Regions from separate parts of the Homo sapiens genome. Here regions 1, 2, 3, 4, 5 and 6 are each reported to be linked to region 7. The links are microRNA targets in miRTarBase. Many come from high-throughput screens and were not tested one by one. Region 7 holds a microRNA gene; each other region holds the end of a gene's coding sequence.
The links. Region 7 holds the annotated microRNA hsa-miR-4713-5p (UUCUCCCACUACCAGGCUCCCA, at 1,735-1,756, shown strand). A microRNA usually pairs through its seed, bases 2 to 8, with sites in the 3' UTR of a target mRNA and lowers its output. Matches are read on the target gene's strand: a 7mer-m8 pairs with bases 2 to 8, a 7mer-A1 pairs with bases 2 to 7 and ends in A, and an 8mer does both.

Region 1: miRTarBase lists PXMP4 as a target of hsa-miR-4713-5p. Seed matches in the 3' UTR shown: 8mer at 3,178-3,185.
Region 2: the mRNA of CD68 is a reported target of hsa-miR-4713-5p. Seed matches in the 3' UTR shown: 7mer-A1 at 997-1,003.
Region 3: the mRNA of PWWP2A is a reported target of hsa-miR-4713-5p. The part of its 3' UTR that is shown has no 7-base or 8-base seed match.
Region 4: the mRNA of GNG2 is a reported target of hsa-miR-4713-5p. Seed matches in the 3' UTR shown: 7mer-A1 at 2,300-2,306 and 7mer-A1 at 1,719-1,725.
Region 5: the mRNA of FAM13B is a reported target of hsa-miR-4713-5p. Seed matches in the 3' UTR shown: 7mer-m8 at 466-472.
Region 6: miRTarBase lists LTBP2 as a target of hsa-miR-4713-5p. Seed matches in the 3' UTR shown: 7mer-m8 at 2,944-2,950.

Annotation. Positions count from the first base shown.
Region 1 is chr20:33,704,213-33,708,279 of GRCh38, reverse strand. PXMP4 (peroxisomal membrane protein 4) reads left to right here. Exons shown (of 4, transcript NM_007238.5): 4 at 311-4,067. The coding sequence ends at 574. Among named protein-coding and RNA genes, the nearest start is that of PXMP4, 14 kb to the left of the region's middle.
Region 2 is chr17:7,580,974-7,585,050 of GRCh38, forward strand. CD68 (CD68 molecule) reads left to right here. Exons shown (of 6, transcript NM_001251.3): 5 at 1-93; 6 at 405-1,138. The coding sequence ends at 538. MPDU1 (mannose-P-dolichol utilization defect 1) reads left to right here and starts at 2,879. Exons shown (of 7, transcript NM_004870.4): 1 at 2,879-2,992. The coding sequence starts at 2,890. It overlaps MPDU1-AS1 (MPDU1 antisense RNA 1), which reads right to left and starts at 3,119. Exons shown (of 2, transcript NR_136402.2): 1 at 2,945-3,119; 2 at 1,001-1,190. RefSeq lists enhancers at 1,703-2,576, 2,528-2,577, 2,577-3,451, 2,688-3,217, 3,452-4,077.
Region 3 is chr5:160,088,678-160,092,754 of GRCh38, forward strand. It overlaps PWWP2A (PWWP domain containing 2A), which reads right to left. Exons shown (of 2, transcript NM_001130864.2): 2 at 2,662-4,077. The coding sequence ends at 3,705. Among named protein-coding and RNA genes, the nearest start is that of PWWP2A, 29 kb to the right of the region's middle.
Region 4 is chr14:51,966,163-51,970,239 of GRCh38, reverse strand. GNG2 (G protein subunit gamma 2) reads right to left here. Exons shown (of 4, transcript NM_053064.5): 4 at 445-3,681. The coding sequence ends at 3,553. Among named protein-coding and RNA genes, the nearest start is that of RTRAF, 21 kb to the left of the region's middle.
Region 5 is chr5:137,936,538-137,940,537 of GRCh38, reverse strand. FAM13B (family with sequence similarity 13 member B) reads left to right here. Exons shown (of 24, transcript NM_001385994.1): 24 at 190-2,578. The coding sequence ends at 313. The region is part of intron 14 of PKD2L2 (polycystin 2 like 2, transient receptor potential cation channel); the gene reads right to left. Among named protein-coding and RNA genes, the nearest start is that of PKD2L2, 49 kb to the right of the region's middle.
Region 6 is chr14:74,497,156-74,501,219 of GRCh38, reverse strand. It overlaps LTBP2 (latent transforming growth factor beta binding protein 2), which reads left to right. Exons shown (of 36, transcript NM_000428.3): 36 at 191-3,037. The coding sequence ends at 336. Among named protein-coding and RNA genes, the nearest start is that of ISCA2, 5.4 kb to the right of the region's middle. RefSeq lists a silencer at 140-434 and an enhancer at 121-1,116.
Region 7 is chr15:51,240,466-51,244,542 of GRCh38, forward strand. MIR4713 (microRNA 4713) reads left to right here and starts at 1,725; the gene lies at 1,725-1,799. CYP19A1 (cytochrome P450 family 19 subfamily A member 1) reads right to left here. Exons shown (of 10, transcript NM_000103.4): 2 at 2,303-2,485. The coding sequence starts at 2,447. The region is part of intron 1 of MIR4713HG (MIR4713 host gene); the gene reads left to right. RefSeq lists promoters at 2,403-2,660, 2,463-3,440, 2,581-2,842, 2,786-2,815, 3,429-3,585, silencers at 2,661-2,822, 2,668-2,697, 2,725-2,752 and cis regulatory regions at 2,813-2,834, 3,493-3,499.

The DNA.
Region 1 (4,067 bases), not on the chromosome of region 7:
AGGAGGTGGAGGTTGCAGTGAGCCGAGATCCAGTAAGCCCACTCTCTCTAGCCTAGCCGACAGAGCCAGATTCTGTCTCAGAAAAAAAAAAAAAAAATTAGTACAGAAATCAATGAAATTGCAAACAGGAAATCAATAGAGAAAAGGACCTAAACCAAAAGTTGATTCTTTGAAGAGATAATTAAAATAAATAAACCCCTAGCCAGGCTCTCTAAGAAAAAAAGAGAAATGAAACAAATTATTAATATCAAAAACAAAAGAGGGACATCACTATTGATCACCAGTAATTCCCATCATTCCCTCTTTGCAGATCAACATGTACCTGTTGTCACGCGTCCTGTTTGCCCTGAGCCGCCTGGCTGTAGAGAAGGGCTACATCCCTGAACCCAGGTGGGACCCGTTCCCGCTGCTCACTGCGGTGGTGTGGGGGCTGGTGCTGTGGCTCTTTGAGTATCACCGATCCACCCTGCAGCCCTCGCTGCAGTCCTCCATGACCTACCTCTATGAGGACAGCAATGTATGGCACGACATCTCAGACTTCCTCGTCTATAACAAGAGCCGTCCCTCCAATTAATGCAGCCCTGAGGTGTCTGGCTGTGGCTCAAGATTTGGCCCCATGCAGACCCTCCCAAAGGATACTGCCTTCTCAAGATCATAGGCCTCAGACTCCAACTGGTGTTATCCCAGGGTTCCGTTTGCTGAAGTAAAAACACTGATTTTAAAATCCCAGTGGGTACCTTTGTATGGTGGCACAAGTGGCCGAATCAGGCTGAGGAATCTACGGCTTGGTTCCAGCTGTGCAGCTGACTTCTGTGAGACTGGGGCCAGCCACACTACTCTCTAGGCCTCAGGGGTCAAGGAGCTCAGAGGAGGGCCCTGAGGTCTCTTTCCGGTGGGTATGTTCATTCTTCAACTGTTCTTATGTCACAGAGGGCTCCTTGCTGGTGGGCAGTGGGTTGTAAATACTTTTTAAAAAACACTAAGTTCCTTATCTCAGATGCTGTTCTACTGGAGAAGTTCTAGATTCCCACTGTCCAATAGAAACACGTGAGCCATATATGTAATTAAAATGTTTCTAGTAGCTGCATTACAAAAAAGAAGCCTGGGCACTGTGGCTCACTCCTGTAATCTCAGAACTTTGGGAGGCTGAGGCAGGTGGATCACTTGAGCTCAGGAGCTTGAGACCAGCCTGGGCAACATGGTGAAACCCAGTTTCTACAAAAAATACAAAAAATTAGCCGGGTTCCATCACCTGTGGTTCCAGCTGAGGTGGGAGGATCACTTGAGCCTATGAGGTCGAGGCTACAGTGAGCAAAGATCACGCCACTGCACTCCAGCCTGGGCGACAGTGAGACCCTGTCTCACCAAAGAAAAAAAAAAGGTGAGATTAATCTTCACTATATATTTTAACACAAATTTCTAAAAGTTATTTCAACATATAATTAACATCATTAGATATTTTGTACTCTTTTTTGTATTAAGTATTCAAAATTGGGTGTATATTTTGCCACCCACATTTTCAGGACCCAGTAGCCACATGTGGCTAGTGGCTGCTGTGACGGGCAACACAGATATGGAACACTTGTATCCTCACAGATTATTCTAGTGGACAGTGCAGATCTAGAGCTAGAGGACATGGGTTTGAGTCCCCACTCCCCCACTGTGTAACCTTGGGGAAGGTTCTGGACCTCTCAGAGCCTCAATTTATCATAAAATGAGGATAATCATAATGCCGTGGTCCTCACTGGACTTGTGCAACTACCACTGATGTGCTACTAATTACTTTCATTTAGTGCATTCATACTTCCACTTGGGTGTTTTCCACATATTATTATTATTTTTTTTTTTTAAGTAGCGACAGGGTCTCGCTCTGTCACTAGGGCTAGTCTCGACCTCCTAGCCTCAAGCAATCTTCCTGCCTCAGTCTCCCAAAGTGCCATGATTACAGGCATGAGCCACTGCCCCTAGCCTGCACATATTATTTTTAAACCATACAGTGGCCTTGCAAATGTGTGTTTTCGTCCCCATTTTACAGATGTAGAAACTGAGGGTCAGGCCAGGTGCAGTGGCTCACGCCTGTAATCCCAGCACTTTGGGAGGCTGAGGCAGGCAGATAACCTGAGATCAGGAGTTCTTGACCAGCCTGGCCAACATGGTAAAACCCCATCTCTACTAAAAATACAAAAATTAGCCAGGCATGGTGGCACGTCCCTGTAATCCCAGCTACTGGGGAGGCTGAGGCAGGAGAATCGCTTGAACCTGGGAGGCAGAGGCTGCAGTGAGCTGAGATCGCACGACTGCACTCCAGCCTGGGCCACAGAGCGAGACTGTGTCTAAAAAAAAAATAAAAAAAGAAAAGAAAAGAAACTGAGAATCAGAGAGGAGAGTAACTTGCCCAAGGTAATACAGCTAGTATAACAGCCGAATCAAGATTTGAACTCAGATTCGTCTGATTTCAAAGCCCATGTTTTTTCCAGTGCCTTGTTTCAAATTTAGAAACCTAAGCCATGCTATGCAAATGTTAGCTCATTATAGGATATGGGCCAGAAAGGGGTACACATTCAAATGCCCATAGGGGCCTACAATGACATAGTGCTATGCGATGAGGAGTGATGGGGACATAGGGAACTGGAGACTTGTGTACCAGTCTGATTTTTTCTTTTTTTTTTTTTTTTGAGACAGAGTCTTGCTCTCTCGCCCAGGCTGGAGTGCAGTGGCGCGATCTTGGCTCACTGCAAGCTCTGCCTCCCAGGTTTACTTACACCATTCTCCTGCCTCAGCCTCCGGAGTAGCTGGGCCTACAGGTGCCCGCCACCACACCCGGCTAATTTTTTGTATTTTTAGTAGAGATGGGGTTTCACCGTGTTAGCCAGGATGGTCTCAATCTCCTGACCTCATGATCCACCCACCTTGGCCTCCCAAAATGCTGGGATTACAGGTGTGAGCCACCATGCCTGGCCAAGTCTGCTTTTTTCGAAACCACGATCCTAGACCAGGCACGGTGGCTTGCACCTGTAATCCCAGCACTTTGGGAGGCCGAGGCGGGTGGATCACCTGAGGTCAGGAGTTCGAGACCAGCCTGGCCAACATGGCGAAATCCTGTCTCTACTAAAAATACAAAAATTAGCTGGACATGGTGGCAGGCACCTGTAATTCCAGCTACTTGGGAGGCTGAGGTGGGAGAATCTCTTGAACCTGGGGGGCTGCTGTGAGCCGAGATAGTTCCATTACACTTCAGCCTGGGTGACAGAGTAAGACTCTGTCTCAAAAAAAAAAAAAAAAAAAAAAACACAATCCTGGACAAATCAAACAAGTCTCCAGGAAAATCTGGTCCATGGGCTACCAATTTGAGACCATTGGTCTGGTAGATACACTTTCATTAATATACTTACTCCATCACTCTTTCTATATTTTAGAAGTTACTAGTAGAAATGTATGCAGGAGTCACTGGAGACCTTATTAAAATGCAGCTTCTGATTCAGTGAGCTGGGGTGGGGCCTGAGAGTCTGCATTTCTCCCAGGCTCCCTGGTGCTGCCAGTGGTGCTGCTCTGAGTAACAAGGGGGTGGGGAATGATATGGAGCCGTCCATTATTATCCCATCTGACAAATGAGTCACAGAGCCCTTAGGTAATTGAGGTGGGATCAGTCTGATTCTGTAAGCTGTGTTTTCAGCCACAACATTTACTGCAAACTTGGAGTAGGTAATTATGAAGTTCCTTTAACTTGCTGTGGAGGTTGAATGAGCTCTAGAGTAAGGGGTCCGCAACCCCGGTACCGGTCCATGGCCTGTTCGGAACCAGGCCACGCAGCAGGAGTTGAAAGGTGGGTGAGCTAGCGAAGCTTCATCTGTATGTACAGCCACTCCCCACTGCTCACATTACCACCTGAGCTCTGCCTTCTGTCAGATCAGTGGTGGCATTAGATGCTCGTAGGAATGCAAACCCTATTGTGAACTGCGCATGCAAGGGATCTAGGTTGCATGCTCCTTATGAGAATCTAATGCCTGATGATCTGTCACTGTCTCCCGTCACGCCTTGATGGGACTGTCTAGTTGCTGGAAAACAAA
Region 2 (4,077 bases), not on the chromosome of region 7:
CGAGCATCATTCTTTCACCAGCTGTCCACCTCGACCTGCTCTCCCTGAGGCTCCAGGCTGCTCAGCTGCCCCACACAGGGGTCTTTGGGCAAAGTAAGACCTACCTACTCCTTCCCTCCTAGAATCCTCCCACTGCACTGAAAACCCCTTCCCCAGGCCCATAAGCCACTCATCTCTCTTCTTAACCCCCCAAATCTCGCTCTCCCAGCTTGTCATGGCTACAGGGCAGCTTTCTTTCCATCCTCTACAAGACTCTGCCAGTTTCCCCCTTTTATCACTGCTGAGTCACTGCGGTGAGCTCCTCACCAATCTCCTACTCCCCAGCATCCCCCCATTCCCTCCTCCCACCTTTATCCCAACCAGCACGTCACTGCAAATACCTACCTGCCCTATCCTTCCGCCAGGTTTCTCCTGCCCCAGTGACCGGTCCATCTTGCTGCCTCTCATCATCGGCCTGATCCTTCTTGGCCTCCTCGCCCTGGTGCTTATTGCTTTCTGCATCATCCGGAGACGCCCATCCGCCTACCAGGCCCTCTGAGCATTTGCTTCAAACCCCAGGGCACTGAGGGGGTTGGGGTGTGGTGGGGGGGTACCCTTATTTCCTCGACACGCAACTGGCTCAAAGACAATGTTATTTTCCTTCCCTTTCTTGAAGAACAAAAAGAAAGCCGGGCATGACGGCTCATGCCTGTAATCCCAGCACTTTGGGAGGCTGAGGCAGGTGGATCACTGGAGGTCAGGAGTTTGAGACCAGCCTGGCCAACATGGTGAAACCCTGTCTCTACTAAAAATACAATTAGCCAGGTGTGGCGGCGTAATCCCAGCTGGCCTGTAATCCCAGCTACTTGGGAGGCTGAGGCAGAACTGCTTGAACCCAGGAGGTGGAGGTTGCAGTGAGCCGTCATCGCGCCACTAAGCCAAGATCGCGCCACTGCACTCCAGCCTGGGCGACAGAGCCAGACTGTCTCAAATAAATAAATATGAGATAATGCAGTCGGGAGAAGGGAGGGAGAGAATTTTATTAAATGTGACGAACTGCCCCCCCCCCCCCCCCAGCAGGAGAGCAGCAAAATTTATGCAAATCTTTGACGGGGTTTTCCTTGTCCTGCCAGGATTAAAAGCCATGAGTTTCTTGTCACATGCCTTTCTATGCCTTCCATGGCTGGGTCTCAGGGAGCCGGAAGCAGCTGCTGAGGAGGGATGAAAATGTCAGTGTGTGACGATGCCTCATGGGTTCACCCCCCAAAGCCTGGCACAGCTGGTGTTGGGTCTGCCGTGCCTCCCTTCCTTCCTCCTCTTGGGGCCACTGGCTGCTCCAGTTCCCCATCCGTGGCAAGCCGGTAGAGCCATTCATCCCCGCAGCCTTCTTCCTGACCCTCGTACAGTTTCAAATGCAGCAGACAGCCAAAGCAATGAGTGGGGGGCTGTGGAACTTCATTCCCAAAGGCAGCGCCAGTGGCTCCTGAGCAATGAGAATGTCCTGTCCTGTCCACCATATTCAAGGCCAGCAGAAGAGCCCGATTAAACCCTCGCAGCACCTGGCATGCTCCTATCCCACCTACAAGGGGTTGAATCAAGAAGGAGCAGTGGGTACTCTGACCTCCACTGGGGGCTCCTGGGAACAGCATGCCCCCCACACGGGGCCACCTGCCAAGCCTAACTTCATGCCCCCAGTACTTGAGATGAGGAGTGTCACTCTCAGGACAGCCAAGGTCCAGATTCCAGAAAGGACCTCCCAGATGGCCACAGCCTGCACCAGCAGTGAGCGCCAGTCCCACCCATTACAGCTGGCTACGGCGCAATCCCTGGGAGCCAGGATGAGCAGCACCCCCCAGCCGTAGGAGCCCCAGGAGGCTTCCGGCCTCCAAGGCCCAGAGACTGCCCCACAAGGGCAGCCCTCACCTGGCAGGGCCCCAGCAGCCCCACCTCTGCCTGCAGACATCCGTGTGACCTTGTAGACTTTGGAGGGGGGCCGCCAAAGGGCTGATCCACAGCGGAATGACGCACGGGTGGGCACCGTGGGTTGGCGTCCCGGCGGTCGGTAACGAAGCACAACGCCCCCACCAGGTAGTCCAAGGTGCCCTTTCCCAAGCAGCGCTGCAGGGTCCACTCGGCCTCGCCGAAGTCTCTGCCCAGCACGTGGTGCGCCCTCGGGCCAGCGGGGAGGGGGCGAATCCCGGGACTGCCTCGCCAGGCCTCGGCTCCCCGGAGACTCTTGGGGGTCTGGGCCCCAAGGGTGATTCAGGTGCTGCCCTTCCCCGACCTGGGCTCGCCTCCCCCACCTCCTCCTCTGCTTCACTGTCCCGGGCCCAGCAGTTGCCGGCGCACTCATGCTCCGAGGCCTGAGCCAACCGGAGGCGAGACAAGCACAGGGCCCTGCGCGCAACCCGGCACCTAAGGAGGCCTGCCCGGTGCAGACTCTCCTGCTCCCACCGGCGCCCTTCCCTCTAGAGACGCTGAGAGAACGGGAGCTAGTAGCGCCCCCACCCAACGCCACCTCGGAGACTCCGGCTCCTTCTCTCTCAACTTCGAACAATACAAAGTGTGCTAGGAGAAGACAAGATGGCGCCCAGCAGGAGGAGCGGAGAAAGGCAGGGGTGTAAATCTGGCTTCCAAACTGGAAGCGTCAACAAAGGCGTGGGAGGTCTAACCGCGCAGGCGTGCAGCTTCGGCAAGCTTTACAATTCCAACAGCGCGTCCAAAACGTGGTCCCTGACTGAGACTTATTTTACGCCACTAGAGTGAGGGTGGGTAGCGTCAGAAAGAGCGGGGCACGGGGCGGGCCAGCTTCGCCGCGGGAAAAGAACGGGAGGCGGAGTGTCCGCAGCGCGCACGCGCAACGAAAGTCAATGGCGGTCTGGAGAGACTGGCGGAAGCTAGCTTTGCAATATGGCGGCCGAGGCGGACGGACCGCTTAAACGGCTGCTCGTGCCGATTCTTTTACCTGAGAAATGCTACGACCAACTTTTCGTTCAGTGGGACTTGCTTCACGGTGAGTTTTATTCAGCATCCGATCCAAGTCCTACTCGAGTGACCGTGGGCCCTTAGTCCAAGCCTTGATCGGCGACTAAGTGACGGCAGTGACTGCCGCCATGCCGAGCTGGACGGAAGTCACTTCTGAGAAGGGCGGAAGTGTCTCGGGCTCCTTAGAGGGAGGACACCATATTAGTGCCAGTGGGGAAGTCACCGGGTGGAATTACTTCTTTGTGGAGTTTGTGCTGTAGCGACAATGAAAAACGAAGAGTCAACTTTTATAAAACAAAATAAAAATTAAGTCAAATCATGCCAACCTTTATTAGATCGCTAGCAGGGTTAAACTTAATTCAAAGCCCCTGATGAATCGGGCCTTCATTGCACCCCCAAAGGCTCCGCCACCCTGATTGCTTTCTTTCCAGCCTCCAGGTTTGCTCATAGTCTGATTTCGGAATAATTTGCCTCCCTTCCTTTTTCTGATTGCGAGACAGCTCCACAAGGGTCACCGTCAGACCGTTTGGGGAGCGTCAGTCTGCCCCTGTCAGTTCATGGTACCTCTCTTGAGCTCGTGGGGCACTTTGTTTTAGCCGCATTCATGACCCGTGAGAGTCAGACTCCCACTAGACCAAGTTCCTTGAGGGGAAGGCTTCAAGGCTAGAGAAGTTGTGGATGGCCAGGGCATAAAAGCAAGCCTTGAAAGGGTAAGGTTTAGTCCCTGAGTAGGGGCCAGGGACAGTCAGAGTGTTCAAGAAAGAGTGGTATGGGGCGGGCACGGTGGCTCACGCCTGTAATCCCAGCACTTTGGGAGGCCGAAGCGGGTGGATCACCTGAGGTCAGGCGTTCGAGACCAGCCTGGCCAATAGGGCGAAACCCCGCCTCTACTAAAAATACAAAAAATTAGCCGGGCGTTGTGGCAGGCGCCTGTAATCCCAGCTACTCGGGAGGCTGAGGCAGGAGAATCGCTTAAACCCGGGAGACAGAGGTTACAGTGAGCCAAGATCGTGCCATTGCACTCCAGCCTGGGCAACAAGAGTGAAACTCCGTCTCAAAATTAAAATAAGAAAAAAAAAATGGTATGAAGACTTGTCTTTGGAGAGAGAAGAC
Region 3 (4,077 bases), not on the chromosome of region 7:
CATCACTAGGCACAAATTCCTGAATCAAAACATTAATTTTTCTAGACATTTGCCCATCTCTTTGGCTGTAAGTACTAATAAAAGTGAAAGCATGCAGCACAAACCATAGAAAATTAACAACTTAAAAGGGAAAACCTAATTTTAGATACAAATTATAGACTTAAGGTATTTCCAATTCCCAATTCAGTTATTCTAGACTTGTGACCTTTTAAACATAAGCAATTTTTAGAAAAGTACAACCTGCTTAAATAGGAGTGTAACTCAATTTAATATGTTGCAATTTAGATACTCAGGCTCACTAGTGAAGATATATTCATTTTGTTGATTTTAGTATCAGTTCCCTGTTCTTTGCCTCCAGTCTGTTTTCACATCAAAATTCCTGCCTATTCAACTTAGTACTAATCTACAATTACTATTTACAGATTTTTTTCCCCATCAAAACCATCTAGGGACACACCACCACGTTATGCAAAAAGGCTCCAGACTAGTGAATCCCAGTTTCTCTATCACACTGATATATAGGGTTTTTTTTCAGAGCCAGGGTCTCACTCTTGCCCAGACCAGAGTGCAGTGGTGTGATCATAGCTCACTGCAGCCTCCAACTCCTGACCTCAAGCCATCTTAGCCTCCCAAGTAGCTAGGATACAGGCGAATAGCTGGGACTATAGGCGTGCGCCACCATGCCCAGCTAAGTTTTTATTTTTCTGCAGAGATGGCAGCGGGGACGGGGGTCTATGTTGCCCAGAGTGGTCTCGAACTCCGGGCCTCAAGCAATCATCCCACCTTGGCCTTCCAAACTTCTAGGAATATGGGAATGACCCACCGCACCTGGCCTCTCACAGATAATTGTTTGGTCTTTGGTTCCACATCTGTAAATGAGAGTTGAATGGATGTTCCTTCCAAATGATTAGTCAGCTTCCTGGTCTATAAATTCTAGAAAGTAAAAAGGGAAAAATACTCTGATGCTTTACATTTCTGAGAATTTCCAGAAATAAAGACATTCTTAGCTTTCACAACTCTTCCTTCACTTGGTTTCTCCCCTGGCCAATCCTTTGTTTTAGCCACGACTCTTACTTAAGCCGCAGATTTGGTCTAAGCCAGTTTACTCCCACTCCAAGGGGAAAAAATACCCACTTCTGTTATCTCCATATCAAGAATAAGTGCCTTTTATCATTTCAAAGAGAAATATAAAGTGGCTACAACTACCCAATTCAACTCTATCTCCATCTGCAGTAGATACTGGACAAATTTATCTAAGACATTTCCATTGGAATAAAAGTTTTTAATATTCAGCTATTAGAGTTTAGAATACACATTTAAGATTAGAGAGATTCTTTAAAACTTGCTTCCCTACTGAAACTGCAAATGAAATATGCCAGACTGCCAGTTTAAAACGAAGGGGTCATTTGGCATATCATTTGTGATATGCTCAACCTTTTCCTCAAAGGTGTGTTCTACAAAACTGATTGTTATTTTTATATTCAACAATCATGTTTTTTTTTTCTTCTCTTTCCCCATGGCTTCTGAAACAAATCCAATTTGGTTTATGCCACAACAGCACATTTACCAAGCACTTGACCATATCAGTAATGTCTACTTCAAACTACTGTTAAAACTCACCCAGATCATTACACAAAGCCTTGGAATTACATATTTTGATGACTTTTAAGTCTTTCTGAACTTTAGATTTCAAACTTTTAAAAACACCTGATTGAACAAGTTCATTAATCTGAAACAAATACTTGGAAAATCTTTTAGGATAGTTCCTTATAACTTCTCAACCACACTGTGAATTTCAAAGAATTTTTTTTTTAAGTATAGTTGTTTCTGTTTGCAGGAAAGAATATGTTCTACTCAAGTGAAACATGTTTTCAAAATGTGTGTTTATTATAATCAAAAAGCATTGAGTGAGTTCCCCATAAGAAATTCTACTTGCTTCTGCAAAAATTCGCAATCAGTCAATAACCTTAAGAAAGCTGACAAGACTATTGATTTTCAATCTCCATTAATCTTTTCATTATGAGTTCCATAGTAACTACTTCAAATTGGATTTAGAAATCCACAAAAAACTGCTAAATTTTAAATTTCTAAAAGTATTGAAATTAGATATCCAAAAGTTAAGACACAAAGTATGAAAGCAACTTTAAAAATCTTGAGATAAACTTGCCTCCACAGCCAATCAGATATATTTCTCACTACTAATACAAAGCTAAAAATGGAAAATAAGAAATCAAATCTTAGGGACAGATGGACCATGTAGAAAAATAGTAAGCTAAGTTACTAGCCCCAAAAGCAGTGATACATGAGGCAGAAAACCAAACAGAAGAGACCGGTTGTAATTACCCGAATGTAAAAAAAGGAAGCATGTGATGAAATATTAAGACTAAAAATTAAAATTCACACATTTATGAGAAATTGGCAGGAAGGGGATATCAAATCTAAAAGCATTATCAAACCTCTATACTACAAAATCTTATTTTGAGAATATACTGATTCATCTCTCATTATTTGAAGTTTTCTTATCTCAGATAATATATTCCCTGATAGGGCAAATAGCAAAATAAAAGTTTGATTTTTCATCTCTTCTAAACACTCTTACAAAGAATAATTTTCTACCATCTTGAAATTTTTCAAAGCTTTTTGAGAAACACACACAAATAATTTGGATTTAGTTGATTTTATTTACAGCTTTTTTTTGGTTTTTTTTTTTTTTTTTACATTTCAGAGCATTACACAATTACATTTTCTCATTTTCTGACCTGCAAACAGATACCTTAAACGGAAATTATTTTGTTTTAATTATCAAATTAGGTACATCCAAAATGCAACAATTACACATATGACAATTAATTCACAAAGTATAATTTTACTGGGACATATCCTAAGAATTTAGGAACAGCCAGTCAGGAGAAATCTGACCAAATTTAGCAATCACTATTTACAAATCCAAAATCAAACCTATCTAAACTCCCAAACCAGAAGCTTGAAAGTATTTATTAAATCCCCACTGGACGAAAGACAGTGATGACTAACACCTATCCAGTCTTGACAGTTTTAATCCCAAACACTGGGCTATTTCCCCAGTCTGTAACTGAATTGCAACCATCTGTTTGTCAAACACCTAACCATCTAACTTTTACACCATTATGCGCATAGAAAGGCTAAGTGTTCATTATTTAAAAAACAAGTAGTCATTAAATATCCACTATTCCCCCAGCTCACCAAGCCCTTATTGCAATCCCAAATATGCAATCTGTGTCACACAGTGACAGGCTGTATTTCATATATATATATGTGTATATATACATATATATGTGTGTATATATACATACACGGATATATATATATACACACACACACACGTATATATATGTATATATACAGTATTAGGTACAAATGGCAATTAACAGTCCCTACAAAAATTCAATTTCAGTTGAGGCTATGGCTCCTATGCCTTGGGATGGTTTCGAACTTCAAAACTGAAAAATACTGCTAAAATCTCACTTCCTTAACACAAAATTTGATTATATGTTCAGTTTAAGCTCTCAGTCTAAAAATGGCTATAAGGTAAGTATTAAAAAGCCAGCCAACTGAGTGCAACTTCTCTCTCCAATCTGGCCACGCTATTTTGTAGAAATTATTCCTAACTAGACTAGAAAATCTGTGGTGACTTCCAATGGTCTTGCCTACCTTACTGCCCATGTTCACGTTTCAAACTGTGTCAACAAAGCCCGCACTTCGGGGGTCAGCTGCTTGGCAGCCTTAGCTGCCTCTGTGATAGCCTTGCGATACAGGCCCTTTCTCTTCTTATTAAAGCGTGACTGGAAGTTTTCTAAAAAGGGGGAGAGTTGTGAAAGAGCAAGGAAAGATGTTGTTGGAGACCCAAACCATGAAATACGGGCCTCCTGTCGGACTAAAAGGCCGTTATCTTTCCGGCTCACAGTTATAGTAAGAATACGGGCTGGCCACCAAGGGAAGCCATATATCTTGGCCCAAACAATGTCCCCTACACATATGGTCCTGCCATCTGGTGTGACGCATTTAGAGACGTTTTTGGAAAAGACTTTCATTTTCAAG
Region 4 (4,077 bases), not on the chromosome of region 7:
CTCCAAGGAGCAGCTGCATCTAGAGTTCTAAGGACTTAGCTTCTCCTGTACTCCTTTTAAATCACAGATAGCTACAGAGAACAGCACTTCTGTTGTTCAGTCTTTATTTTTCATAAGGGAAAAAGCCCACTGTGGCATACCTGCAGCAAGTGAAAGTGTAAATACAGCTCCTCTGTCTGCATACTCCACCCTATCAGAGCCCTGGGCTCTCCTCACAGCCCCCACCTTTCTCTGTCCCCAAAGGCTGTACCCAAGATGTACAGACCTAGTAAGAAATGCTTTTAGAGTGTCAAGTGAGTTTTTTCTTCTTTCGGACATCTCTATTAACAAAATCCTAAAGAAAATCAATGGATTCCTATTTCCTCATCCATTCATACCATCAGATCCTTCTCAAATTGACCACAGAATCAGTGGCCGTCACAATGAAATTGACTGCATATGAAATGAATCTGAAAATTCCATTTATTAAAACACATACATTGTCCATGTGGGATGAAAATGTGCACATCACATTCAGGTTTTCCTGCTTTAACATTTCTGTAGTTCTCTCTTTGAAACACACACTCCACAGATCTTATATAGGAAAAATGTGAACAACTTTTGGGCTGCAAAACATTAATGCATACATAACAATTCATCATTGCCAAGAGCAGCTAGAAGCAAATATTAAGGAAGAAAGACAAAGAAGTATAAAAATTCCTAAAGACAGCATGCTTTATTTTCTCAAAATTCCATATGTGACTATGAGCGTATGGAGAAATCGTTTGATTTTTAAATTTATTGTTTTGTCCTTGGTAGGCAATCTCCTTCAAATATTATTAGCAAAATCAAACATAGATCAAAGTATGTATTTGCATCTTCTGATTGAAATTAAACAGTACTTGGTTTCAAATGTTTTAAAAATAACACTTTTTAAACTGGAGTTGATATTGAGGATCATGTAAAATTATTCTTTATAGACTTTGCATTCTAAATATGAAGTTTATTGTTACTACTTATTAGTTAATTCCACGGCAGATTTTCATTTCTATCGAATATATTATATGTAGAAACTAGGGCCTTAAATAATTAAGCTGACTTTTCCTATTAGTTATTCCTTAAGATAAAATTATGCTGGTGAAAATGACTGTTGAATTTCTCAAGAAATTAAGCTCTATAGAGGCATAAGTAATCGAAAGACTTTTTCCCCTGAATAAGTACAAATACCAAGAAGCCAAAACTCATATAAAGATTTTCGTATTATAATTCCATACTGTAAGACATAAAATTATGAAAAAGCCAAAACATTTTCCTTAAAATGCTCCCTAGAAATTGTAATTCCATCTTAATTGCTCCAAAGATCTAGATTTACATGGAAATATAAAGAGTCCTTCTGAGAAAAGGAAATGCTGTGAATAGTGGAAATCGTCTGGGCCTTCTAATGATGCCTCAGTCACCACCAAAGAGTGTTTTATTCATTCATCCGTGTTTTCATGTGACCACATACTCAATTCATGTTTTGGCCCATGTAAAAACTGTGATATGTTTTAGCTTATTCCATAGTGTTACTAAGCTAATTGTACAATGCTGTAGTTTAATAAATACTCTGCTGTTTTTTTCACCCCTAAATCTTCATGGGCGTCCTAACTGTAACAAAAACCCCACAATTTGAACAGAAGAACAGAAGTATCTGGTTACAGAAGTGCATTCATACATTTCACAAATGTTTCAGTATCCTCTTCTCCCCGACCCCAGCATGAGCTTTAATTGGATGTATTTATTCTTTCACCAGCATGCCCATGAAGGAGCTAAGGAAAACATTTACCAAGTCTGTTTCAAAATCTGTCCTTGGCATATCAAACTTTTTCTCTTCCTTTTTCATGCTTTTTTTTTAAAAAAAAAACAGGAGAAAGCGAATAGAGAGGAAAGAGACAATAAAATTAATTGGGAGATGGAGATGATATTTGGGGATTTGAAAGCAAACAAGATGTAAGAGAGGCCCTCTTTGACTGAAAATGACACAGAAAAAGGTGATCAAGTCTTCCAGGGCCTGCTGTTACTGATGGAGACTACAGCTACAATGAAAAATTACTCTCACTACCATATCTTGGGGAAGGAGCGCTCTAGTTGCAAGGAATTTGTAAATAAAGGCCGAGAGACTCTAACAAACAAGATGGAGAACAAAAACAAAGATTCCATTAAAAAATTTGTTAAGTGAAAAACCAAGACCATCTCAGTGGACAAAAGAGCCAGAACTCTTCCTCGTAGAGCCGGCCGTGGGGACCGCACCTGCCGCCCAAAGAGTGGCGATTTGAGGTCCTTCTCCCTGGAGAGTGAATAGCTGGAGTTCTGAGAATGGTCACCTTCTCTGGAGCTGTGGGTTTATTTCTTCTGATACTTGAACAAAGGAGGGCCATGGTTTTCTTGTTAAGAGCACAAAAAAATGTTCTTTTAATCTAGAATGTCCATGATTCAGGGAAAGAGGGAATTTGCTCATACTCATGGCAAAAGCATTTCCCAGCTCATGGTGAATCCTTAACTCTCCTGCTTGGTGACAGCTGTGCTGCCCTGGGTCCTGGATAAACCAAAATGCTTTGGATTCTGGAAAACGTATTGAAGAGGCATTTATACCACTATTAACTAGGAGGTATTTTAGGTGTGGCTAAGGCTCTGAAGTAATCTCAATTTTCAAAATACTGAGATTTTCTTCCCTCTCCGGGGTCTTTTCCCTCTCATTTCCTTTCCCAGCTTTAGAGTAAAACAACAAAACTTCTGAATGGATGTAACATAGGGACATTTTCATGCAATATTACTCAAAAATTGTCACAAATATATGAAAGCACCAGTCACAACACAGGATTTACTTTTACTTGCAGAATCAAAGCTATCATGTACACATGTTAGGAATAGTGAAAAGAGAACACAGACAACCGGCATTTTTTGTCGTTGTTACCATGAGGATACACCACGGGGAACATCTCCCTAAACATTTTGTGTGATCATTCTTGGAGTTCAATCTGATAGACCAGTCCAGCCTTATCTCCACACTACTCTAATGGGGAGGGGTGGAAGGAGGGGTAGAGGAGAAGGAAGAAAGAAAAAGAAAGGCACAGTGACTATACATCAATGCCATTAAACCGAATTGCATCTACACGGGACAGCTCAGCTTATCAAAGGGTATTCTAAAGACAATATTCATTCCAAGAAGGTCACACATATCTTACCTCAGTACAGCTGTCTGTTTTAATTGTTATTTTTCAAAATATGAAGCAGAAACATGAGGATTTTGGGGGGGGGGCTGGGGGATAGCAGAAAAGAAGTGACACCAATTTTATTTTTATATATTCCCCTCCTCCAGGCAGTTCGTCAGAATCAGATCTCTTAAGTCAGGATGTGGATCGGCTTGCATTCTCATAAAGGGGACCAGATCTTTAAACATGCATAGCCTAGAGTTTCCAGAATGGTTCTCCTCGCTCTCTTCAAATGCCGTGGACTAGAAAGGTGCCCACTTCACTAAAAACTCTACATCAATGTCCCAGGAGCCCGGAGGCTCTTCAGGCCCCTCTCAAAGACTTAAAGGATGGCACAGAAAAACTTCTTCTCCCTAAACGGGTTTTCTGAAGCCGGAACAGGGGTCAGGAGGGGGTCTTCCTTGGCATGTGCTTCACAGTAGGCCATCAAATCTGCAGCTGCCTTGGACACCTGGAAAGGGAGACAAAAACAACCAACACTGGAGTCTGGTACAGTCAGTCAAGGCCCAAGGCTTTAGAGCCCAATGTCCTGGCATCAAATCCTTGCTCCATGAAGCAAGATACTCAGCCTCTAAAAGCTTCTGCTTCCTCATCTGCAAAGAAGAAAGTTGACGACACTGACCTTACAGGATTGTTGCCAGCAAGTCTGGGACTAGGTTAAGGTGAGTGAGGCACTTAGGGTGCAGAACCGAAGGAGGCACTCGCTGGCAGGGGCATGCAGGTGTCAACCCTGCACTTCCATAGCCCCGCAGGTGGCTGTCTCCTTCATTTGTTTTTTTTTTTTTTTTTTTTTTTTTTTTGAGATGCAGTCTCGCTCTGTTGCCCAGGCTGGAGTGCAGTGGCTTGA
Region 5 (4,000 bases), not on the chromosome of region 7:
CATCAAAAATTTTAGAAGTGTTCCTTGGGGATGAGGGTATTAGTTCAATAACCTTTTTTTTTTTTTTTAACAGAACAACTTTTTATTTGAACTTATGTTTAGTAACAGTATGTCTCATATTAAGACAACTTTTGGATCTTTTTTTCCAAATGATCTCTAGAACATTACAAATTTTATTTTCTCCCCTAGGAATGCCCAGAAAGAGGATCGTGTTCCAGTGCTTGAGGAGTACAGAGAGTACAAGAAAATTAAAGCCAAGCTTAGGCTTCTTGAAGTTCTTATAAGCAAACAAGATTCTTCAAAATCCATATAAGATACGTTCCTTGAAAATTCATATCATAAAGTCAGTTGTATTCCTTGAAGCTATCATCGTGTGTACTTGGCTGGTACTTAAATTCGTTTTGTCAGGCACTCAGAGAATCTCATTTTGTACTTGGTTGTGGTGCCACTAAACAAAACAAATGATGGGAGAGTAAGTAGGCCCTCTCAAGGGAGCGTAAGTGATGTTCCATATTAACCACAGACTGTCCTCTCCACCTTTAGCAAACATATGGTTTACTTCATTGTTTTGTACTACAGATACATCCTTTTAGCAAAAGACTGGAATTTTATCCTTTCAACTTCAAGAACTTTGGAAATGCAAGCTTTTTGTTATTACCAACTTTTTGTTTCTCATTACTGAAGAAAATTGGAGGAAAATCTTCATACTGAATTCTTCTGTTGCCTTTTTCTTACAGAATGACTGAAAATTTGAAAGAAAAGCCTATAAAAGTGCACATACGCAACTGTGTTCTCTGTTTTCCTAGAAAACCAAAATCAAACTGAGATTTCAAGTCGTACTATGGAACACCTTTCTGTTTAATTCCCAAAGTGACATCTTCTCACAGGTAGTATGTTAGTAAAATTTTGCAATTCGCTGGTCACACAGCTCCCGGATGAAGATAACAGTTGGTAGACCAAAAGGTGACCTCGCTTAGTATATTGAAAACACACACCACACATCACACACAGAACTGAATCATACCACATGCTGCCTATGGGACTTCAGTTACTGTTTCCTGAGTTACTGTTTATCCGCTGGCAATGGTGTGATTTGTCTGGATCAGATCCGCGCTATTCCCCAACCCACCTCCAGATAATGTGAGAAAATAGCCATGTCAGTATGTAGGAACTCTGATGGTGCTCAGATTTGTGTGTTCAATCAATGGGCTTAAATCAGCAAAATATTATGCCTAAAGTAAATCTGTTCTTAACAAGGGCTCTACCACTGCATTTTCACATGTACCTTCAGGGGGTTATCTTTTTTTTTTTCCCCTCCTATTTTAATCAGCAAAATCCATACCAAAACAACGACAACAACGCCCTCTTAAGGGACCACCCTTTGGTCAATCATAACATGCTGTTTAAAGCAGCTGTTTACAGGATGTGTAGTGGTATGCCCCTTGTCATATACTCTTAGCATATCTTTTTTTCCTTTGGCTTTGCATGGCTTTTCTTCAGGTACTGTCTCGGTATCATTCTGCTAATCATTGTTACAGAATGGTGACTTCATTTGTGCTAACAGTACAACAGCAGATTTGGGTCAGGCTTAATCTAAGTGTTAACTTTTTTTTCTGGTGCTTTTTTGGATTGATGACTGTCTCACTTTGACTATACCCATGTTTTGCATGCAATGACTCATGCATGGTTTTCTTAACTAGCTAATATTAACAATTTATTCCATATAAAAATGGAATTTTGCAACATCCTTTAATAAGGTGAGGGAAGCATGAACCTCAGACTTCTGGCACTATTACATAGTAAGCACATGAAGTAGTTTGATAATAAATAGCAGTTCTAGTACTTCACATTTCACCCGTGTGTGCAATGCCTTTTTCTGGGGGGTGGGGGGTGAGGGAAAACCTGGTAGTGAATGTGTAGTTGGGGAATAAAGAAAAGCACTAAATCCTGCCCTTTTTGTGTGGTTTCCTTTTGATACAACTAGGTTATTCATAATGTATACCTAGAAAAGTGAAATTGAAAATACCAAAAGATGTATCATTTTTATTTGAATCCATCATGCAGTGTACATTTCAGATAATTTCCTTCAGTCTCCAGATAGGAGTGTATCCAAACATCTAATTTTATGTGCACTGTGTATCTTATATGAATGTTTTATTTTATATACCACATGCAAAAATGTCCATATGCACTATTTAAATGTTTTAAATAATATATTCCTTCTTTATAATGCTAAATCTATATGAGTACCATATTTTTATAAGTCAGTGGTCTGACTGGTTTCATTTTAGAATTAACAGCTGCTTCAATATGTTATTCAATGTTAATGTTTGGCTGTGAGTAGAATATGTAAAAGTGGCATGGCAGCACTTATGCTCTGTGACAGTATTGTGTGTCATAGTTGAGCAGTAGCTGGTAGAATTAGGCAGTTGGTGATAGTTTTACTTTGGTACAAATAAAAACTGTATATCTATATACAAATAATATATAGATATATATGTCCACCAGTATAATGGCATTGCTGTGTCTGGCACTTCATTGTACAGACTTTTATAATAAAAGAACTTGAAAGTTCTAAGTCATTGTAAATGTATGTTTGTTTTTCCACTGGGCTTAAAAAAAAAAAAAAGACCTCAAGTGTTCCCTCAGCTTAGGCTTTGTTTAAATGATCCCACCCAGGGGCGATGGTAGGGAACAACAGGGTCACTAAACTATTTGGCTGGCTACAACTCTGGGAAATGGTAAGACAGGGAAAGGCCATGTTGTTCATTCCCTTGTGCAGATCTAGGGAGAAGCCGCAGAGAGAACAGTTAGCATTTCTTGTTACAATGAATTATCCTATTAAGAACACTGGATGTACAGTCTCTTAAGAGAAGAGCTTGTCCTGAGGAAGGTGAGTAGTAATCTAAAAATGTCTTTATATTTGAGTTTTAAAATTCAGGAACTATTGAGCATCAATGTGGAAGTTGAGTGCTGAGGTCAAATGATGTTGCTTGGGCTAAGAGAACATATGGCTATCGTAGGGGGGCTTACATAGCCTAGAAAAATTAGAAGAGTTTCTCTCCAATTTCCAAAATGCCAGCCACACACAACTTTCCAACCCTCCAAATAAGGCTGTTACAGCATCCTCATTTACACTTTCCAAACATAACTTATGACAGTGATACGCCTACCCTGCTCTGTATTTTATTTTTGGGAAACCTTAAATGCATTACACCTTAGAAATGGTCTAGGTAAATTTCCAGTTTGAAGATGTTAGTGAGATTTCTGTAGGTGGCTGGGGAGTTTGTTCTACACTTTGGCTTTTTCCAGAAGGCTTCAAATTCTAAAGAATGGAGGGAGGTTACTTTACTTGGGTCTTATATAATGGTTTCCCAGAATCCTAAGCCTTTATTAATTTATCTGTGGCCAAAGGAATTCAGAACATGGTACCTGACGCACTTGATAGCATCAATAGTTTTTCTACTCTGTAACTATGAGAAAACTGTCTTTCTCTACCTACTGACTGAACTACTGGAGACCTGCCGCCTGAACTAGAAGCATTTTCTTGTACTTTCACTTTTCTAGAATTTGATAATAAACCTCATTATAAAATCCTTTGTACCAGTGTGTGTATACTGGAGGCTTGTCATAATATGCATGGATTGTATAGTGAGTCCCTGTCAGAGGCACTTCATTCTGACCCTAAGGATAGTTTGATGATAGGTTGTTGAGTACTTTTTAAAGTGTGCCTGAAAAGGGCACAAGTTTATGAAGTAATACATGAATAAGAAATGCTCAATGGGCTGGGTGCGGTGGCTCACGCCTGTCATCCCAGCACTTTGGGAGGCCAAGGCGGGTGGATCACGAGGTCAGGAGATCGAGACGATCCTGGCTGACACAGTGAAACCTCGTCTCTACTAAAAATACAAAAAATTAGCTGGGCACGGTGGCGGATGCCTGTAGTCCCAGCTACTCGGGAGGCTGAGGCAGGAGAATCGCTTGAACCCGGGAGGTGGAG
Region 6 (4,064 bases), not on the chromosome of region 7:
GCATGGTATGAGCTTGCTGCCCCCTGCTTTGTCCTTGAGTTGCTTGGTTTTGGGAAGTGACTTCAGCCTCTGGCTGTCACACTTAGGGTTTCACTCTAGGGCAGTGGCCAGGGCTTACTAACCAGAGAGGTGGAGGCAGCCAGCAGAGGCACCTGGGCTCCCTACAGCACTCTCCTTTGTTTCCTCTTAGATGTGAATGAGTGTGATGACTTGAACGGGCCTGCTGTGCTCTGTGTCCATGGTTACTGCGAGAACACAGAGGGCTCCTACCGCTGCCACTGCTCCCCGGGATATGTGGCTGAGGCAGGGCCCCCCCACTGCACTGCCAAGGAGTAGCAGTCAGGGGTCAGTGTGGCAACTACCTGGAAATGGCCTCCAGTCACAGGCAGGGGCCTTGAGGATGATTTCCTAGCTGGGAAGACACCGTGACATCAGGCCAGAGGTTTCCAATCAGCCTTGCCTGCTTTCATCTCTCCCAGCTTAGCCTCTGGCTGTAAGCTTCGGTCATTGCCTCCATGCCCTTGCTTGGCTCAAGCACCACCAATCGCTTTAATGCTTCAGCCACCGCATGAGGCCCTGTCCACCACCTTTCCTGGCCTTGCTATGGGATGCTTACCAAAGGATGGCCCTCATCCACCCTCCCAAGCTGTGCGAGCATGCAAGGCCCCATGGCCTCACACTGCAGACACCCCTTTCCAGCCACAATCCACCATCATCCTGACGATCCCACAACTGGGACAGAGGCTACATCTGCCCTAGGGAGGTCCTTCAGAATCTGTGGAGCAAGAAAGGATTTGGGGAAGCTTGGGGACTGACTCCAGAGCCCCCTCCTAAGAACCATCACCACCACTCAGCCAATCTGTTCTGGGCCCTGATTTTGCCACACCTCCATCCTGTAGCCCATTCTCTGACCCCAAGGAGTGGCAGAAGATCCCTTCACTCAGAGAAGCAAGGCTGATATTAGCTTGTTGAATGTAAGAGACACAAATGAAGAAGAACAAAGAGCCTGAGAAAGCAGCAAGAGGACATGATGAAAAATACGTGGAGTTGATGAGAAAGGGGAGCCAAGGCTTTATACGTCTAAAGAAAATATTCAGTAGCTGAATCCGCCCAGTGATAGCCTGTGGGCACCAGCAGCAAGGGCTGCCATGGGATACAGCACCCATCTACAAAGACCTCTATTACATAAACACTGCTTCTTACAGGAAACAAACCTCTTCTGGGATCTCCTTTTGTGAAAACCAGTTTGATGTGCTAAAAGTAAAAAGTCTATTTTCCAGTGTGGTCTTGTTCAGAAGCAGCCAGATTTCCAATGTTGTTTTTCCCCTCCACTCAGAAACCCCTGCCCTTTCCCTTCAGAAAACGATGGCAGGCATTCCTCTGAGTTTACAAGCAGAGACTCACTCCAACCCAAACTAGCTGGGAGTTCAGAACCATGGTGGAATAAAGAAATGTGCATCTGGTCTCTTCTGTTGTTTTTATTTCATATCAGATTAAATTTCTTTACCATGTTGGCTAAGTCTAAATATTAGAGATGAGGCTGTGCCTACTCCCTGGCCAGCTCTGCTGATAGCCTATGATGGGTTCCAATGGGAAATGACTCTTTACTATTAAAAGACAAGGAAAGCTCTGACTTCGTACTTCTCTGATGAATGGCAATGTAAATGAACAAGGCTCCATGTGACTGGAGCATGGAAGTGAATGCTACTTTCTTAATTTAATCTGCCCTGTCCTACCTGCTCCTCTGATTGTTAGCCATCACATAACTTATTGAATGCTTGCCATGTGCCAGGCACTGTGCTGAGTGCCATACATACATTTCATTTAATTATCCAATAATCCTACTTACTATTGTTTATTCTCAATTTACAGGTGAGGAAACTGAGACATAGAAAGCTTAAATAATTTGCTCTAGGTCCCTATACTAATTGAGATGTTTTCAGCAGACAAAAATAAGTCACTCTTACGCATGTAAAAATATTCTTTCACTCATAATAAAAGAAATGCAACTTAAAACCATACTGAGATCCTTTTTAAAACTGTCAGATTGGCAAAGATCAAAAAGCTTGTTAAGACTCCTAGCTGGCAAGCATGTGGGAAATAGGTACTCTCATAACAGCTGACAGAAGTACATATTGAAGAGGACAATATGGCAATGTCCTTCAAAATTATAAAAGCACTAACTCTTTGATCCAGTAGTTTCCACTTCTAGGAACTTAACCTTCAGATATATTTTCACCAGATATAAAATGACATACGTAAGAAGTTATTACTGCATCATTTGTAATAGCTAAAGATTAGAAACAATTAATTGCTATGGAACCCTTAAAAAAGGTGGCTCTAAATTCCTTAAGAAAGATATCCAAAACAAATTAAGGGGAAAAGGGAGGGTTGCATAACAGCATGTAACATAACACTATTTGTCTAAAGAATGGGGAAAGAGAAGCGGTTGTCTGTTCACCTCATCCTTGCCACTCCGCCTTATACCTCACCATCGGAGAACTTACCATCCCCCAAATATATCCTGCTGGCACTACACCTTCGTAACTGCTGTTCCCACTGCCCCCACAACACTCCAATCTCCACCTTCCTGCCAACCTTGAGATATTGTATGCATATATACATATTTCCTTTGTTTAAAATACAAATAGCATACTATGCATGCTGTTCTGCACTTTGCTTTTTTTTTATACTTGCAATTAGAGCTGCCTCATTTCATTTTACAGCTGTATACTATTCCATTGAATGGATAAACCATAATTTATTTAATCAGTCCCTCACTGACAGACGTTTCCATTGTTTCCTGTCTTTTGCTATAAATAATGCTGTAATGAATATTCTTGTGCATATTTCACATTAATTTATGGGATTACATCTGCAGGATAAATTCTTAGAACCAATGGTGGTTTGTGGGGAGGGTGACAGGGTGGATAGGTACAGGATTGGGAGACTTTTCACTGTATCTCCTTTTGTATTTTTTTGAATTTTGTACCATATGTATCACCTATTCAAAAAAAATAAAATATTTTTAAATACAGTTGCTGGCCAAAGATTGCTTAAATGCTCCTTCTCTTTATATATTTATCTGACTATAATTTACAACTAAAGCCAGGTGCTAATTATGTCAAAATTCCTTAATGCAAATTTGTCAGGCAGCCCTGTGGCATTTTTATGAAGAGTGGAAAATACGGATTTTAAAAGAACGATCATAAACATCAATGCTAGATAGGAAGAAAAATAGAAGAGATTCCTTCCTTTCAGACAAAACATGCAGTGAACAGTGTTAGGCCCTGCCCAAAGCCAGCTGCACAACATTAGCTTGGGTCCAGATTTCAAGGGAGAGCTGTACCACCACGATCAGTGCTGCCCACTTCCCTATACCAGGTTGATCCTGCCAAATGCCACCCCTGCACTCTAATGCTTTATAACAAACGACAAAACAACAGAGCTCGATTCTCAGAAGTTACAGAAAGAAGAGTCTCTTCCTGAACACCTACTTTAGTAGTCCTTCCTAATCTTTTACTTCTCAACTTCTTTCCTCCTATCCCTTGTAATCACTCAACATTCCCATACGAAGAAACTATGGGTGGGCCAGGCATGGTGGCTCGTGCCTGTAATACCGGCACTTTGGGAGGCTGAGGCAGGAGGATTGCTTGAGCCCAGGAGTTCGAGACTCCTGTGCAACATGGTGAAACCCCATCTCTACAAAAAATACAAAAAGTAGCTGGGCTTGGTGGTGTGCACCTGTAGTCCTAGCTACTTGCAGGGGCTGAGGTGGGAAGATTGTTTGAGCCTGGGAGGTAGAGGCTGCACCTCTGCACTCCAGCCTAGGAGACAGATTGAGACCCTGCCTCAAATAAAAAGAAAGAAACTAAGAGTGGATGGGACACATAATTTACATACCCTTGGTCACTCTCATCACATAACTCAAGTATGGTACCACAATAAGATCTGGGCATTGACCAAGAGACCTTCTCTTTGAAAAACAACATAAAGTCTCCACCAATGGAGACTTCCTGCTGCCACTTCTGGTTTCCCAATGAAGCTTTCTCAGTGTGAAGTAA
Region 7 (4,077 bases):
CTTTCACTGTTCCTGAGCTTTCCTGACTCTGTGCTTCCCCTAAACCTCTAAAACCAAGAACCTAGAGAGCCACTGATTAAAGGGAGCTGGCAGGAGCTCAGGAGTATTGATCAGCAAAAGCCACCCCAAACAAGGCCAATTTTCTTATCTTCCCTCCCCCAACCAGAAACCATAGGATCTCACAGTCTGTGCTACTAGTGGATTCTAACTAGACCTTCTGTTTTCAAAAGGAAAGTGTGAAACTAGAAACTACCTGTCTAGCAAAATGATCATCAACCTGGGCTTTAGGACTTCCTGGTGGTCCCCCTACATTCCCACTTTCTGTCCAGCTGGGGAGATGACAAGCCATTTCCCTTCACTGGGCTTTAACCATTCACTTGTAAAACGACAAGTTTGAACTCCATGGCTTCTCATGCTTGTCATAGTGTTTTGTCTGGGCAAGGCAGATCAACTCCCTGGGTCTCAGTTTCCCCTTCTGTCAAATGAAGGAGTTAGGCTCATATTTGTGGCTCTCAACCTTGGCTGCTCATAAAAAATCAGGAAGGGAGATTTTTTTAAAAATAGCAACCCCAAACTAGCTGAGCTCCTACCTCAGACAGTGCTGAGAATCACTGTGCTACTTGATCTGACTGTCAGTGGATCAGCATGATGGCCCTGGCCCAGAAATGGTGGACAGAGTGAGGTGCTGCCTACTCTCCCACTGATCCAGAGCTTCAGGGCTGCTGGTTCTCAGGCTTGTCCTAACAGGCTGACCTCCTTGGTCAAGGGTCCAAGGAAATTCCACCAGTGCTGATTAACATAAGCATCTGCGGGGACTTTTTAAAAATGCATGTTTCTAGGCCTGAAGAGTCTGAGTCAAAAAGTCAGGAGCAGGGTCCAGGAACAGAAATGTTAACAAGCTCCTACCTGCTGGGTGTTCTTACATAGACTTAAAAGCTTGAGAACCTGTGGCTCACTGGATGGGCAATGCTGCGTGGGCAATGCTGGACTCTCCTGGCCTGATTGTCTGCTAACACAGACAAATTGGAATTTAGCACCTGAGCCTATGAAGGGAAGAAGAGGAAAAAAAGGCTCTCCACCCCCACCACTTACTCACCCCACCCCGACCATTCACTGACCCTGACCTAGAAGCCCCCTTGGGAGAGGAGAAATCCAGTGAGGAAGGGCCACACTGGGGAACAGAGTTCAAGTTAAAGACCATGAAACAGTTGTCCCTTAGCTCTGAGCCTCCCTTCTCTAGAGTTGACCCTGTCAGGGAGCAGAGAACAAAATTAACTAAATGTTCCTTTAAACTGGGCATTAAAGTAATCTAAAATATCAGGCTGAATCAGGCAGAGAGACAGGCAATTATCTGGAATGTTAAAAAGAATCCAGACACAGAGCATTTTGTGCTAGCCCCATGCTCCCACTTCTGATCCCACTGAGACTAGGCCCACCACACTTACCAGTGTGTAACTATGCTCTTAAAGTCTCATTGGATATCTTATGGAATTGGGAACAGATGTGTCTGCAATGAAGCATTTTCACTGAAACCTAAAGAAGCAGTCTGAAATTTCAAGTCATTCTGAATTAATCTGATATCTGATCATTGCGGCTTTAAGGGTGGAAGGGTGGGGTTTTCTATTGGGATTATCTGAATAATTATATTATTCTCTGCTTTTGATTGAACCACAGATCTTGTTGAAGATTCTCCCGGGGTATGATGTTCCAAGAGCACTGGAGTGGTCCCCATTTTTCTCCCACTACCAGGCTCCCATAAGGGTCGAATGGGATCCAGACAGTGGGAGAAAAATGGGGACCACTATCACCACATTCCCAAGAATAAGAGAAAATGATGAGTGGAATAAAGAGAAGGGATAAATACAAGACAAAGAGGGGGCATGGCGGAAACAAAGTGAAAGGGAGAAGAAAAGCAGTGAAGAAGATGTTCCAGAGACATTTTCACCTTCAGAGCAAAATTGCAATCTATTTTTTAAAAGTTAACCAGAAAACCCTGGAATTTTACTTTACTCCACCCCATCTTGAGCTTGTTTTAAAGGGTACTTGTGCCAAGTCTACTTTACGAAAGCACAGCACAGAGTGGAAGGGTTTATCTAAGATATTTTTTAAGTGCTTTCATTTAAAATGTGCAGATAATTGGTCTGAAAATTTTCTCCCAAGTCCTCATTTGCTAACACAGACATAGTCTTCAGAGATCTTTCCAGGTTTGCTTTTTGTCCTTTTGCAAAATTTTCTTTACCATCATGGACCAAAATCCCAAGTAAATAATCTCCTTAGATACAGAAATAAATGACTGACTTACCTGGTATTGAGGATGTGCCCTCATAATTCCACACCAAGAGAAAAAGGCCAGTGAGGAGCAGGACTGGCATGGTGGCAGCAGGCATGGCTTCAGGCACGATGCTGGTGATGTTATAATGTATCGGGTTCAGCATTTCCAAAACCATCTTGTGTTCCTTGACCTCAGAGGGGGCAATTTAGAGTCCTGTGGAAATCAAAGGGACAGAAAAATTACAGAATCCCCTAAAAGGTTCATCTATAGCTCCTGTTGCTTCAGAGGGTGCTGTACAGTACAGATTCACTTACTGTTTTATAATGTGATCAGACATTTAGGCAAGACTAATTTATGGTTACAAGTCAAAACAAGGAAGCCCAAGAAAGATCTTTTGGCTTGAATTGCAGCATTTCTGACCTTGGTAGAGTCTCAGGTTCCTTTAGACGCTTGGTCTGATAGAACCTTATCATCTTGCCCTTGAGTGGGTAGAGTGACGTGCATTCCCAATTGAAAGCCAAATTTCTTGCCAAATTATAAGAAAATAAAGCTCATTCCAGAGGTGGAGTCATTTTGTGACTTCATCAGCAGGTTTTGTTTAGGCAATCTTCTTCCCTTGAAGCCAAATCAATTTCAAAACAAAAAGGCAATCTCCCAACTCCCCTTTTTGACCAAAATGACTTTTTTGATCAAAATAGTAAGTTTCTACAGTAAGAACACATTTCTTGGGCATCGTTGAGGTCTTCTCAGAGCCTTCCATCAGTTTGTCTATTGAATTCAAAGTGACTCACTCAGGCCATCTCTAGTGACTTCAATGAAGATCTAAAATCTCTTGTACCATGGGCCAGATTAAACAGTATCCCTAGGGACCGGCCAACGGTAGTGTGGAAAAAAAGAATTGCAGAGGAAGAATAAGGGAGAAGAGAATGAAAGGAATGGGGAAGGAGGAAGAAAGAGAGAACAGGCAGAATAGGATGCCACCAGCAATAGGCTCAGGTGCCACTCAGGAACCTCATTCGAAGAGCAGCTAACATCCTGTGCAAGACAATCAATTTACAGTCTGATGTGCTGGTTCTGCTGTGTTTTTCAACATGCCATTGAATCTGTCTTTTCAGCCAGGTTTTGTAATCCCTTTACTCTCAGAACAGAGTTTCAGGGATGGTAGGTAGTCTGTAGCTGAAGAGGTGTAGGTTGAACAAACTTGTATAGTGAGGAAAGAGTGAGTCATCATTAAATGCATTTTCAGTGGCAGATGACATACTCCAAGGTTTGCCTTTACTTAGACAGGGCCTAGAGTTTCTGTGACTTGCAATGGCTCTCAATCAGACTTGTGCTGGGTTTCACCTGTAATAAAATTCTAGATTCACAGCCAGGGCTTCTAACTGGATATTGGGGGCTCTGTGTATTCCTTGAAACACTGCATAAAATATTGTAATCGGCACATTCTAGTGGAGAAAGGCCATAACTTTCATCAGATTCTTAAGGAGTATGTCATTATATTTCTCCTCTGATCTATATGAGATCTTAAAGTCCAAAGACTGATTTCTGTCAACTACAAAATTTTTACAACATAGTTGAATTTATCCAGTTGTTTCATCATTTTATGTTATTCTACCATTTAAATAATCATTAATGCTTGGGTGCAGGGCACTGAAAATGCACTGGAAAGGTCCTTTGAGATTCTCTCCTGAAAGCACATTGTGCTTATGTTGAGCAGTTTTGTGGTTGTTTTTTTTTTAATATATATAAGTCGAAACTAAAAAGTCAGCCTTGTGTCTGTTATCATCTGGTTCCTTTGTTGATGA